2 separate regions of the Homo sapiens genome follow, and region 2 is linked to region 1. The links come from fine-mapping of genetic effects on gene expression. A gene starts in region 1. The other region holds a variant in brackets. All regions are shown on one strand. Distances are between the middles of the regions.

Region 1 (5,378 bases):
TCATTTAACAATTCCTACTCAAGAGCCCGAATAACTTCCTGTTCCTTACAGGATAAAACTCAGACTGTGAAGAGCGCTAAGCAAACTCCTCCATATTCTCTCAGACCCCCAAGAGAAGTTACAAAGAAACCAGACATCACCACCAGGGCCCCCAAGACCCTTTTATCTTGCTATATCACAGTTCCAGACAGTTGCACAATGATTGAGGGCACTTGGATATCCACATACCATGACATTCTAGGCAGAAATTTTACACTGGGCATTTCATGTAGACTTCAGCTCCTTCCCCTAAGGTTCTCAAATGCATTGGCATGCATACTAGTTACATTCAAATCAATGGGCTGACCACTATTGTATTTCTTCAAAGGACAGTTTACCTGTTATTGGGAAACACTTGGCACACCTAGCAATGAACTTCCAGGCACAAGATAGTAAGTGAGCAAAATAAGAAGGAATAATAAATCAACATCAGAAAAAAAAAACACAAACACATCTTGATGCTTGTAGGACATCGTGTTCTGGTGAGAGCAACGGAGAGTTGGAAAAACAAAGTAGATGGCTGGTGGTAAATCATCACCCTACCAAGCCAAGCAGACCAACTCAGGGAAAGCCCAAGAGAAACAAATGGCACTGCCTTAGATGATGAATAATGGCCAAGGAGGTAGAGAATGCTAAAGAACAGAAGTCAAGACCCTTGGGAGGAATACGCATCTGTCCTCTTACTCCCTTTCTGGAAGAGAGCACTGAGAAATTCTATTGCCTTGCCTGGCATCTACTACTTCTAACTAAAGCAATACAAATAACCTTGAAGCTTTCCACAATACAAGCTTTGTTTTTTAAAAATGAAATAGCATAGCTTTTCCTAAATTCTTAAAAAGCAACAACAGCAGTTTACATCTTTCCCCACTGATCTTTCCCTCAAGAGCTTTCCCCCCATCTCCAGCCAGTGCTGCCTGAGCCTGTGTCTTACTATATGAGGTCCTGACATCCCGAACCTTTAGGAAGTATGACTGTGGCTGGTCATCTTCCCAACTCACCTGTAAGTACCTTCAGGACAAGAATAATGAACTTACCTTCTTCTCTATGTCTTCTCATTTATCCTCCCACATTGTCCCCTAGCACTCAGCCCAGAAGGTTCTAAAGAAATACCAATACTGCCTGTTAATATAAATTAAAATGTATTCTTGTTATATAATGTAAATCTGAAAATTCCCTTCCTTTCTTTTAGATATTTCCTGTATCCTTTATTCCTTCTATTCCTTTTTCTAGCAAACTTTCATACTTACCAAACAACCCTATTTTGTGAGGGATAGGCTATCATCACCCAGAACCGTCCGCCGCCCCCCCCCCCCCGCCCCCCACCACCCTATCACCCCACAACATACACAGAGCTGACACTTGGTTTAGTTTGTGGTTAACAGGGGTGGCACTCTTTCTTCAACTTTTGTTTGAAGGTTTTAGGATGCAAAGTAAAGCCACTGGCCCCATTTCTCTGCAAGATTATCCTGCCCAAATCTGTATGAATCACCAGTGGCCATTTCTCATCTACTTCCCCAAAATTATTAAAGGTTTTATTGTATAATACCTTCACCACCTTCCTACCCTAAGAAGTCCTCTTCTGGCTCATTAACCTCCTTCACATGTTGGGGACAAACCTCAGCATTGCCTACAACTCACTTATAAGAAAATATAAGTTTCTATACCAGGCATGATTTGTGATTGCAGTGCAATTTTCCTATTAAGTCTAGAGCTTATCATTCTTCTCTCCTACACATTCTGGTCTTTCTCTACCCCTTCTTTCCATTCTGCCCCCTTTTTTCCTACCCCTCTCCCCAAGAAATGAACTGGTTTCCATTCAGCAGGTTTAGTCTTGCTTTGGCCAGCTTATTGTTTCAAAGTGGTTATAAAGTTGCTGGGCTTGAACACAGATTATTAATTTTCAGGCATTCATGATGTCTCCCTGTTGAGTGTGGTATGTGCAGGTGTGCACATGTGTACCTGGGGTAACTAACACTCCTGGACTATGCAATTTTGCTGGTGACTGAAAAGATGAAGTCAAAGTTGATTTGATTATTGAAGAATCACATTATTTTAGAGGTATACAGAATGTCAGAGTCCAACTTTGGCGTTTTACAGATGGGAAAACGAGGTGGGGCAAGGTAAAAAGACTTAGCCAGAGTCATAGGTTGATCAGTAGGGGGACTAAGGCTTCAGCTCTGAGCTGTCATATCTCAGTCCCCCAAGGCTTTTCCACTCACATAAATTCCCCCTCAAGGGCTCAAATGTGTGAGTGAGAACCCAGGATGTCCACATACAAACAAAAATGCATCATAGACATGTGAACATGTACACACAGAGAAGATAGGGAGTTATTGCATTTGTAGCCTACAAAACAGAACCGAGAATGTGCTGTTAAAATTAGAGTAAAACTGCTGTAAGCAGGTTAAGTTCTCATCTAAAGAGATCACATTTCCCCACCATACCCCTGCTATCCATTTCCCCCAAGTGGCTCATTAGAAAAAAAGATGGCTAGATTTCAAAAAGCAACTTGGAGAGATTTCTATAGGATTTTTCTTTAGTTCAATCAATACAGAGTTATCTCTTACTTCCACGAAAATAGCTTTTTCACACATCTCTGCACACACAGTCACACACACATATAAAACATTGGCAGCAGGTACTTTTAATTTGCTGGAAAATATTTCTAAGAAGTCAAAAAGCTCCAGCTGAATTGCATGCCCTCTTATTGGCTCACCAGACCAGTTGAGGGACCTGATTGGTCCTTGATCCTGAGGACCGATAAGAACGGCTATAAAATCCCTGGGTGCAGCTCTTGGGCCCCCAGTTTGCAAAAGCCAGAGGTGCAAGAAGCAGCGACTGCAGCAGCAGCAGCAGCAGCGGCGGTGGCAGCAGCAGCAGCAGCGGCGGCAGCAGCAGCAGCAGCGGAGGCACCGGTGGCAGCAGCAGCATCACCAGCAACAACAACAAAAAAAAATCCTCATCAAATCCTCACCTAAGCTTTCAGTGTATCCAGATCCACATCTTCACTCAAGCCAGGAGAGGGAAAGAGGAAAGGGGGGCAGGAAAAAAAAAAAACCCAACAACTTAGCGGAAACTTCTCAGAGAATGCTCCAAAACTCAGCAGTGCTTCTGGTGCTGGTGATCAGTGCTTCTGCAACCCATGAGGCGGAGCAGAATGACTCTGTGAGCCCCAGGAAATCCCGAGTGGCGGCTCAAAACTCAGGTAAGCAGCAAACCCAAGAGCGGTTTCTCCCCCAAAGAGCTGTCCTCATTTGCCTCTCCCTTTTGCAACTGTGTCTGTGACGGCTGATCTTGATAATAAATGTGCTTCATGCCTGATGGCAATAAACTGCCAGTGTAATCCAATAGCCTTAGGCAGTGGAGCTCCTTTGTTTAATAAATTGCATGCAACTAAACGAAGAAGCTGGACGCTCTGCTGAGGGTATTTCATTGCATAAGCCTAGCCTGATTGCCTGAAATCTGGCACGTACCCTCTTGGAGGGGGAGGGGTGAGAGGGGAGGAAAGGCTTGAATGTTGGCATGCTTCAAAGCGCTCTCTATACTTTCCAGAAGCTGATCTAAGGTAAGACCTGGCTTGTTTGATGCTGTCCCTCTTCCTTTCCTCTTAAGACTCTACCTCTTCACTTCTTGACTTCTCTACCTAAGAGAATACACAGAAAAGCTCCCTCTTCAGACTGATTTTCAGAACCATAGCCCTCAAGTCTGACAAATCCAGGGCGGATTCAGAGAAAACCCTATACATCCCACCCCCAACCCTGCTGCCTGTCTCCCTCCTGGCTCTGTAGGGCTCCATTCAGTCGTCCCTGCAGCCCGTAGCCAGAGAGCCCCTAGAAAAAAAAAATTGTGAAACGTAGCAGCTGTTTCTCCAAGGGTAAGGTCTCACTTTCGTCTTGACTCTTGGAGCAGTTAATTGTGCATTATCTTGGCTTCTGAAGGAAAAGAATCATTAGGAAGCCTGCATTGACACCTCTGCCTCTTGACTTCTCTGGCTCCACTTGTTCCCCTTCCAATACTGCCCTCTGTCCTCCAACTGTCAGCAAAGACCGGATCACAGGTGTCAAAATGCTGCAGATGATGATCCCCTTGGAAGAGCACAGGTCCCTGCCGAGAGGAGGGCTTTTGCTTCACTTCCTTTTGTACTTAGTTGCTATAGAGATGCAGTGATTCACAATTCGAGCTTGCCTAAAACAATAGCAGCCCTAATGCATATTAAAACTGCTTAAAGCAAAGTTATAATTTAAACCCGTGGAAATATATAATTAGGGAAATGACTTGTAACATCCTAGAGGCTGCGGGTGGTGGGAGGGGGTGGGGAAGACTAACTGAACCATGCTTTTGATCTCAGAGGAGAATCCTATGGCATGAAGGCTGCAGATCATTCCTTGCCTAGCTGCCTGCCAGAACACCCCCCTTCTGTGGGAGAAAAATTACTTTTATGGGAGATCTTATCCAGAATGTAGAAAGCCTCATGCAAGTTTTTTGCGGTTTTCTTCCAGTCTTGCATAGGGAGGCCTTGGCCTGGTTATTCCACACCTGTGTTTCTTCTTTCTTTCTTTCTTTCTTTCTTTCTTTTTTAAAAGGCTTTTAATATGAAAGAGATTATGCATACCTCTAAGCACTGTCCTAGTGGAGGGTTGGGGTGAAACATGAACGGATCAGATTTCTTTTTGCCAATATGACGGTAAGTTAAAAGCCTGAAATCAGAAGGGTCTCCAAGTGGACTCCTGGCACAGTCTTCTCTGCCATTTAGACTAAAATCCCATGCTTTTTACTCGGGAGTGCATTTTTCCAAAGCTAGATGGATTCCCTGGCCCTTTTACCTCTTAAACCTGACCACTAGCCACTGTCTCCTTCCTTCCCATGCTTTCAAGTGCTAAGCAATGACCTTTGATTCTATGGAATGGCTTAAAGGCACTGTGCATTTCCAGACTTGAGCCTCACTTCTCCAGACACCAAAATTGTAGGTAATGGTGAAACAGGGAGCGTGTGTCTGAAACAGAGAACTCCCTCCCTGTCCATCATGTACTCCAGCAATCATAAACAAAAGGAGCCTGTCTATCCTCTCTTTCTCAATCAAATGGGTCTATCAATTGCCCCTCATGACAGATTCCTAGGATAAGTTCTTCTGACCTCATGTCCTTGAAATTCACCTCTGCACCCACTTGATCCCACCCAGCCATTCCTCACTGTTTGACCCAGAATGGATGGATTTGTCTCTTTCAGCTGAAGTGGTTCGTTGCCTCAACAGTGCTCTACAGGTCGGCTGCGGGGCTTTTGCATGCCTGGAAAACTCCACCTGTGACACAGATGGGATGTATGACATCTGTAAATCCTTC
Region 2 (5,378 bases), 110 kb after region 1:
TGTGCATGTAAACTCTTTTTTTTAAATGTGGAATTATATAAAATTTCTTGGTCCATAACTCATACTTTTCACTTTAACAAATATATCATGATATCTTTTTTCCAAGTCCATACATTTTTATAGTGGATATGTGCTATTTCACTGTATTATCACTGAAATATACATTAATGAATAGATTTTTTTTGTTGTTTTTCAGTTACAAATGCCAGTCCAATTACTGTCCTGGGGCATACATCTTTATGTAATTATGGCATTGCTTTTGTAAAATAGAAACAATTGTTAAGTCAAGGAGCCCAGGAGTTTGAGGGTACAGTGAACTATGACCACGTCACTGCTCCAGCCTAGGCAAGAGTCTGTCTCCAAAAAAATAAAAATAAATTTTTTAAAACGGAATTGTTAATTCAAAGGACATACTCAATTTGTAGGGGTTTTTTGTTTTATCAATTATTGAATAGTTTAAAAATATATTTTGACATGTTCTGAGTATAAATCATACCAAATACTCAGAAGGCAATTTTTTTAATTTAGCTTTTTTTTTTTTCTGGTGGTAGTTGTTATAAAATTGGCTTATTTCCCCAATTACAAGTATTTTGAGACAGGAATATTTTTGTGGTCACTAAACCACTCCATGGATACAAAAGAATATTGCTTAGGATGTACTACTGATTTATTTTAGCATTAAAAAAAAAAGCCTCTGTGTTGCCTCATGTTTTACAAAAGATATAAAAAGTAATTCATATTTAAATCTCTGTTACACTCCTTATGGACAAAATCAGAGAAGCAAATAGACTCCAAGTTGCACAGTGGTGCTGGGATTACTTCTGTTAAAAATTGCAAGGCAGGGGCCGGGTGTGGTGGCTCACGCCTGTAATCCCAGCATTTTGGGAGGCGGAGGTGGGAGGATCACCTGTAGTTGGGAGTTTGAGACCAGCCTGACCAACATGGTGAAATGCCATCTCTACTAAAAATACAAAATTAGCCGGGTGTGGTGGCGCATGCCTGTAATCTCAGCTACTCGGGAGGCTGAGGCAGGAGAATCGCTTGAACCCGGGAGGCAGAGGTTGTGGTGAGCCAAGACTGCACCATTGCACTCCAACCTGGGCAACAAGAGTAAAAAAGAAAGAAAGAAAGGAAGAAAGAAAGAAAGAGAGAGAAAGAAAGAAAGAAAAAAACCAAGAAAGAAAAAGAAAGAAAGAAAAAGAAAGAAAGAGAGAGAGAGAGAGAGAGAGAGAGAGAGAGAGAAAGAAAGAAAGAAAGAAAGAAAGAAAGAAAGAAAGAAAGAAGAAAGAAAGAAAGAAAGGAAAGAAAGAAGGGAGGGAGGGAGGGAAGGAAGGAAGGAAAAGAAAAGAAAAGAAAGAAAGAGAAAGAAAGGAGGGAGGCAGGGAAGGAGGGAGGGAAGGAAGGAAGGGAAAGAAAGAGAGAGAAAGAAAGAAAAGAGAGAGAGAGAACGACGGAGGGAGGGAGGAAGAGAGAGAGAGAGAAAGAAAGAGAGAAAGAGAGATTGCAAGGCAGACATGGATTTCATGCTACTTTCAGGGTCCAGCCCTTTCGGTTTCTTCCAAGCTCCTATATTCTCATTGGGATAAAAAGGGTCATTTGGTTAAATTGTACCTGCTTGCCATGCCTCCCTTGAAAGGGACCCTTCAAGGGACTCCCTTGAAGGAGACCCGGTTACCCAGGCCAGAGACCTTCAAACCTGGGGGTTGCGTCAGAACTGCCCCAAGCGCCACCCACATGTAATTGAATGGAATGGGTTTGCGATGGGGACCAGGAATCTGTTTTTTTGTTGTTGTTTTTTGACACGGAGTCTTGCTGTATCACCCAGGCTGGAGTGCAGTGGCACAATCTCGGCTCACTGCAACCTCCGCCTCCAGAGTTCAACCCTTGAAAGCTGAGTTTTTGCTAGATCAGGCAGTTGCCAGGTCAGGCAGTAACCAGGTGCTAGGCTCTTGTGAGTTTCCAATTTGAGACTAAAAAAAAAACCTGATGTGTTATCAGTGGGGATAGAAGGCCCCTTGTTTAAAAGTCTTTGGGAGATTTTCTTTCTGGGAAGAAATTTCCATTTCTCTGGAAATGATACCACAAGCTTAAGGGCAAGCAGGTAAGTAACCAAAAAAGGCAGGTCCAGGACCTTGGTTCAATTTGCACCCAAGAAGGCAGACAAGGGATTCACAACATTGAGAATTCAAACTCCTCAGTGCCCTCCCTCTGAATCCCCAACACTAGAGGCAACAAAAGCAAAAGTTGAATATACAATTTGGAAAAAAAAAATCTTGAAGGAGTTTTTAAGAGATATTTTTCCACATCTAAGCAGATTAAAAGTTGCATAGAAATGAAAGATGGCATTGGATTTTGCAATATCAAAGTTTGAGTGGTATGTGGCAGGAAGCCTCCCAGGCAGTAGAAGCTGGCTTGATCTCTTTCTAAAGGTCTAGACTGGAGGTTTTCCTGGAGAAAACCACAACCGTTTTCTCCACTTTTCGGCTACTGGAGCTGCCAGTACTTCCTTGTGTTTGACTCAACCCCACATCGTTCAATCCCACAGCTATGATATGACTTCAGCTTACTAACTGAAATCTAAATTCCAGTTCTTCTATGTCACTGAGCAACAAAAGAAGAAAATTGTAAAATACAGTACACAAGAAATGGAGAAAATGTAAATGACACCTTAATTGTTATCATCATTTGCTTTAAAAAGTTAATTTTAAACATTTCTCTTGCATATTAATTTTTGAAAGAGAAGACTATCTATTCAACTAGAAATAGATGCCTGCCACTGCAACAAAAGAATAATATGAGAAACCAAAGTTCAAAAGTTGAAGATGCAATAAGAAGGGAGTAATAAATTGGCCTCCCTAGGCCAGGTAGAGAGTAGGGGGTGGGACAAAGGTGACCAAACAGTTTACTAAATGAGAGGCACCACTTCCCTCCCAGAAGAGTAAAGAACAGTGATTCTCAGCCAGGTGGGCCAGGCACTTGTCATGCTATTCATGGTTAGGAGACTGTTATGCCGACTGACCTGTCTAAATTACGCTCAAAGGAGGATGAGGGGAGAACCAG[T/C]GTTGTTTAATTAACTGAATCTTGGAAAGCAGGATGTCTCCTAACCAGCAAAAGACCTAACAGGGTCATCAGTGTCTCCACTGGCTAGGCTTACCATTTTTTGTCAAGCAGCCATATAAACTCCTTCCCCTCCAAAAAAAAAGTGTCTGTCTGGATGACAAAGTGTCAAGATACTTGATAATCTGCAGACAGAAGGTATTTCATGAGCAGAACAAACACAATACCTGGATATTTTTTTATTCAAAATGAATTCATCTGAAAGTAAAATAACCCATTCCACTGAGTTCTCCAAAGCATCTACACATCGCTGAAAGCAGCGTGGCTTTCCTCATTAATATCATAAGAAGTTTTTAAGGTACGAGATGGCACAGTGGTGGTCTAGGGACATGCTTAGAAATCTCATGCTTGGAGGAGCCGGGGATCCTGCACACACACACTTTCCAAGACCTGAAAACAAAGGCCTCAGGGTAGACCACACTGCAGTTCAGGGTGTTTTGAGTACTGAAGAGTGAGTAGGGAAAGGCACCAATGTGAAACCTCATAGATTTGTAGGACTGTTGAGGTGGGAGTTGGGGGAAGAGAGGAGAGGAGAGCAGGAAAGGAGAAAATCTGTCCCAGAGCCAGTCCTCAGCGCATAAATAATAGCAGCCAGTATTTCGCCCACCTCACATAGTCATCAAGACCCCATGACTACTGTCCCATCACCGTAAGGAACACCATGTGATTTTCATTAATTGTTTGAACCGGTCAACTGATTATTCTCTTTAAAAAAATCATAACATCTCTGGTCTTTCACTTTCAATCTGGAGCTTTGTAAAGTAGCTATTTGTCTGGGATGACAGAAGTTGTCAGCAGGTATTCTGCCCGTTTCCAGGTAAGGCTGAACACCAGGATTTTGTTCATCCAGTTTCCTCTCAATGGGTCATCCCGACCTGTAAATGTGGACTTGGGGAATGTTACCTGCAGGCCAGCTTAAGATCATTCCAGAAGAATTTGAATACTGAGCTCATTCTTCCACTTTTTTAAAAGAAACAGACATCAGGATATGATTTTATTCAAATCTTTGCCTTTCTATCTACTTCCTGTCACTGAGACTCAATTTCTTCCTTTTCAAATGGAAATTCAACTGTCACCCTATTTGATAGTCTCTTTTACATCCCACTACTTTTAAAAAGTTAAAAACTTAAGGTCTTTTTAAAATATAAACTACAGGATTTTGAAAAGGTCCAGGGTTATGAACAATGAAACATTCTGGAAATTTTAGGATTCTGGATTTTTGAAACAATAGAGGGGAGAGTTTCCATAGTCTTCAGTCTTAGACCCTAGTTCTGTTGGCCTTCTTGAGAAAGCTGCAGCTCTGATGCTTATCAAAGCTTCCTAGGAAACTTAGGGCCATTGCAGATAACTCTCAGCCAGTTGGGCCTGGCACCTATCAACCATCTGAACCAGGGCATTCTCCTTCTTATTAGCAAGGTCGTCACTGACTGCTCAACACCATGAACAGAAAAGGAACAGGTTTGGGGTGTGACTCTATCTAGCCACCAGCACAGAATCGCCTGCTCCAGCCAGGCCCAGGCTGCCTCCACCTATGGAAGGAGAGAGGAACCTGCAGCTTGAGGAAGTTCAGAGAAAACCCAGCCCTTGTAGGTACAGAGGCAGAGGTTATACCACATGCATGGAAGGCTCTGGGCTTCTTTAGCAACTTTTTTTTTTTTTTGAGACGGGGTCTCACTTTGTCACCCAGGCAAGAGTGCAGTGGCACAATCACGACTCACTACAGCCTCTGCGTCCCGGGCACAGGTGATCATCCACCTCAGCCTTGCAAGTAGCTCAGACCAAAGGTGTGCACCGCCATGCCCAGCTATTTTTTAAATGTTTTGTAGAGGCAGAGGTCTCACTATATTGCTGAGGCAGGTCTCAAACTCCTGGCCTCAAGCCATCCTCCTGCCTCAGCCTCCCAAAGTGCTGGGATTACAGGTATGAGCCACCATACCCAGCCTTTAACAACTCTCAATAACGATTTATCATTTTCACCACTAGAGGTCTTATACATACTTTTAAAGATTTATTCTTATGTACTTCATTTCTTGGACTTATTATAGATGGTATATATTTACTTAATTTCTGTTTGTTATTAATAATATAAATGTAATTGGCTTTTTTTTACCTTGGCTTTATGGCCAGCACTCTTGGTAAGCTCTTATCAGTTCTAATTATTTATCTGTAGGATCATTTGAATTTTTCATGTACACAGCCATATAATCTGTGAATGATGACTATTGTGTTTCTTCTTTCCAGTCCTTGTATTTTGTGTGTCT

Which allele goes with the higher level. Positions count from the first base shown, and alleles are read on the strand shown. Sizes are in standard deviations (SD) of each study's normalised expression.
With allele T in place of C in region 2, the expression in fibroblasts of the gene that starts at base 2,844 in region 1 is higher (large effect, 1.9 SD a copy in GENCORD).

The links. PIP is the estimated chance that this variant, and not a neighbour inherited with it, causes the effect.
Region 2: its variant is fine-mapped to the expression of STC1 in fibroblasts (GENCORD, PIP 0.95).

The regions. Positions count from the first base shown.
Region 1 is chr8:23,852,272-23,857,649 of GRCh38, reverse strand. STC1 (stanniocalcin 1) reads left to right here and starts at 2,844. Exons shown (of 4, transcript NM_003155.3): 1 at 2,844-3,244; 2 at 5,266-5,378. The coding sequence starts at 3,127.
Region 2 is chr8:23,742,318-23,747,695 of GRCh38, reverse strand. All of the region lies in intron 3 of LOC107986930 (a long non-coding RNA gene), which reads right to left. Among named protein-coding and RNA genes, the nearest start is that of NKX2-6, 38 kb to the right of the region's middle. The variant T/C (reference allele first, on the strand shown) is at 3,061.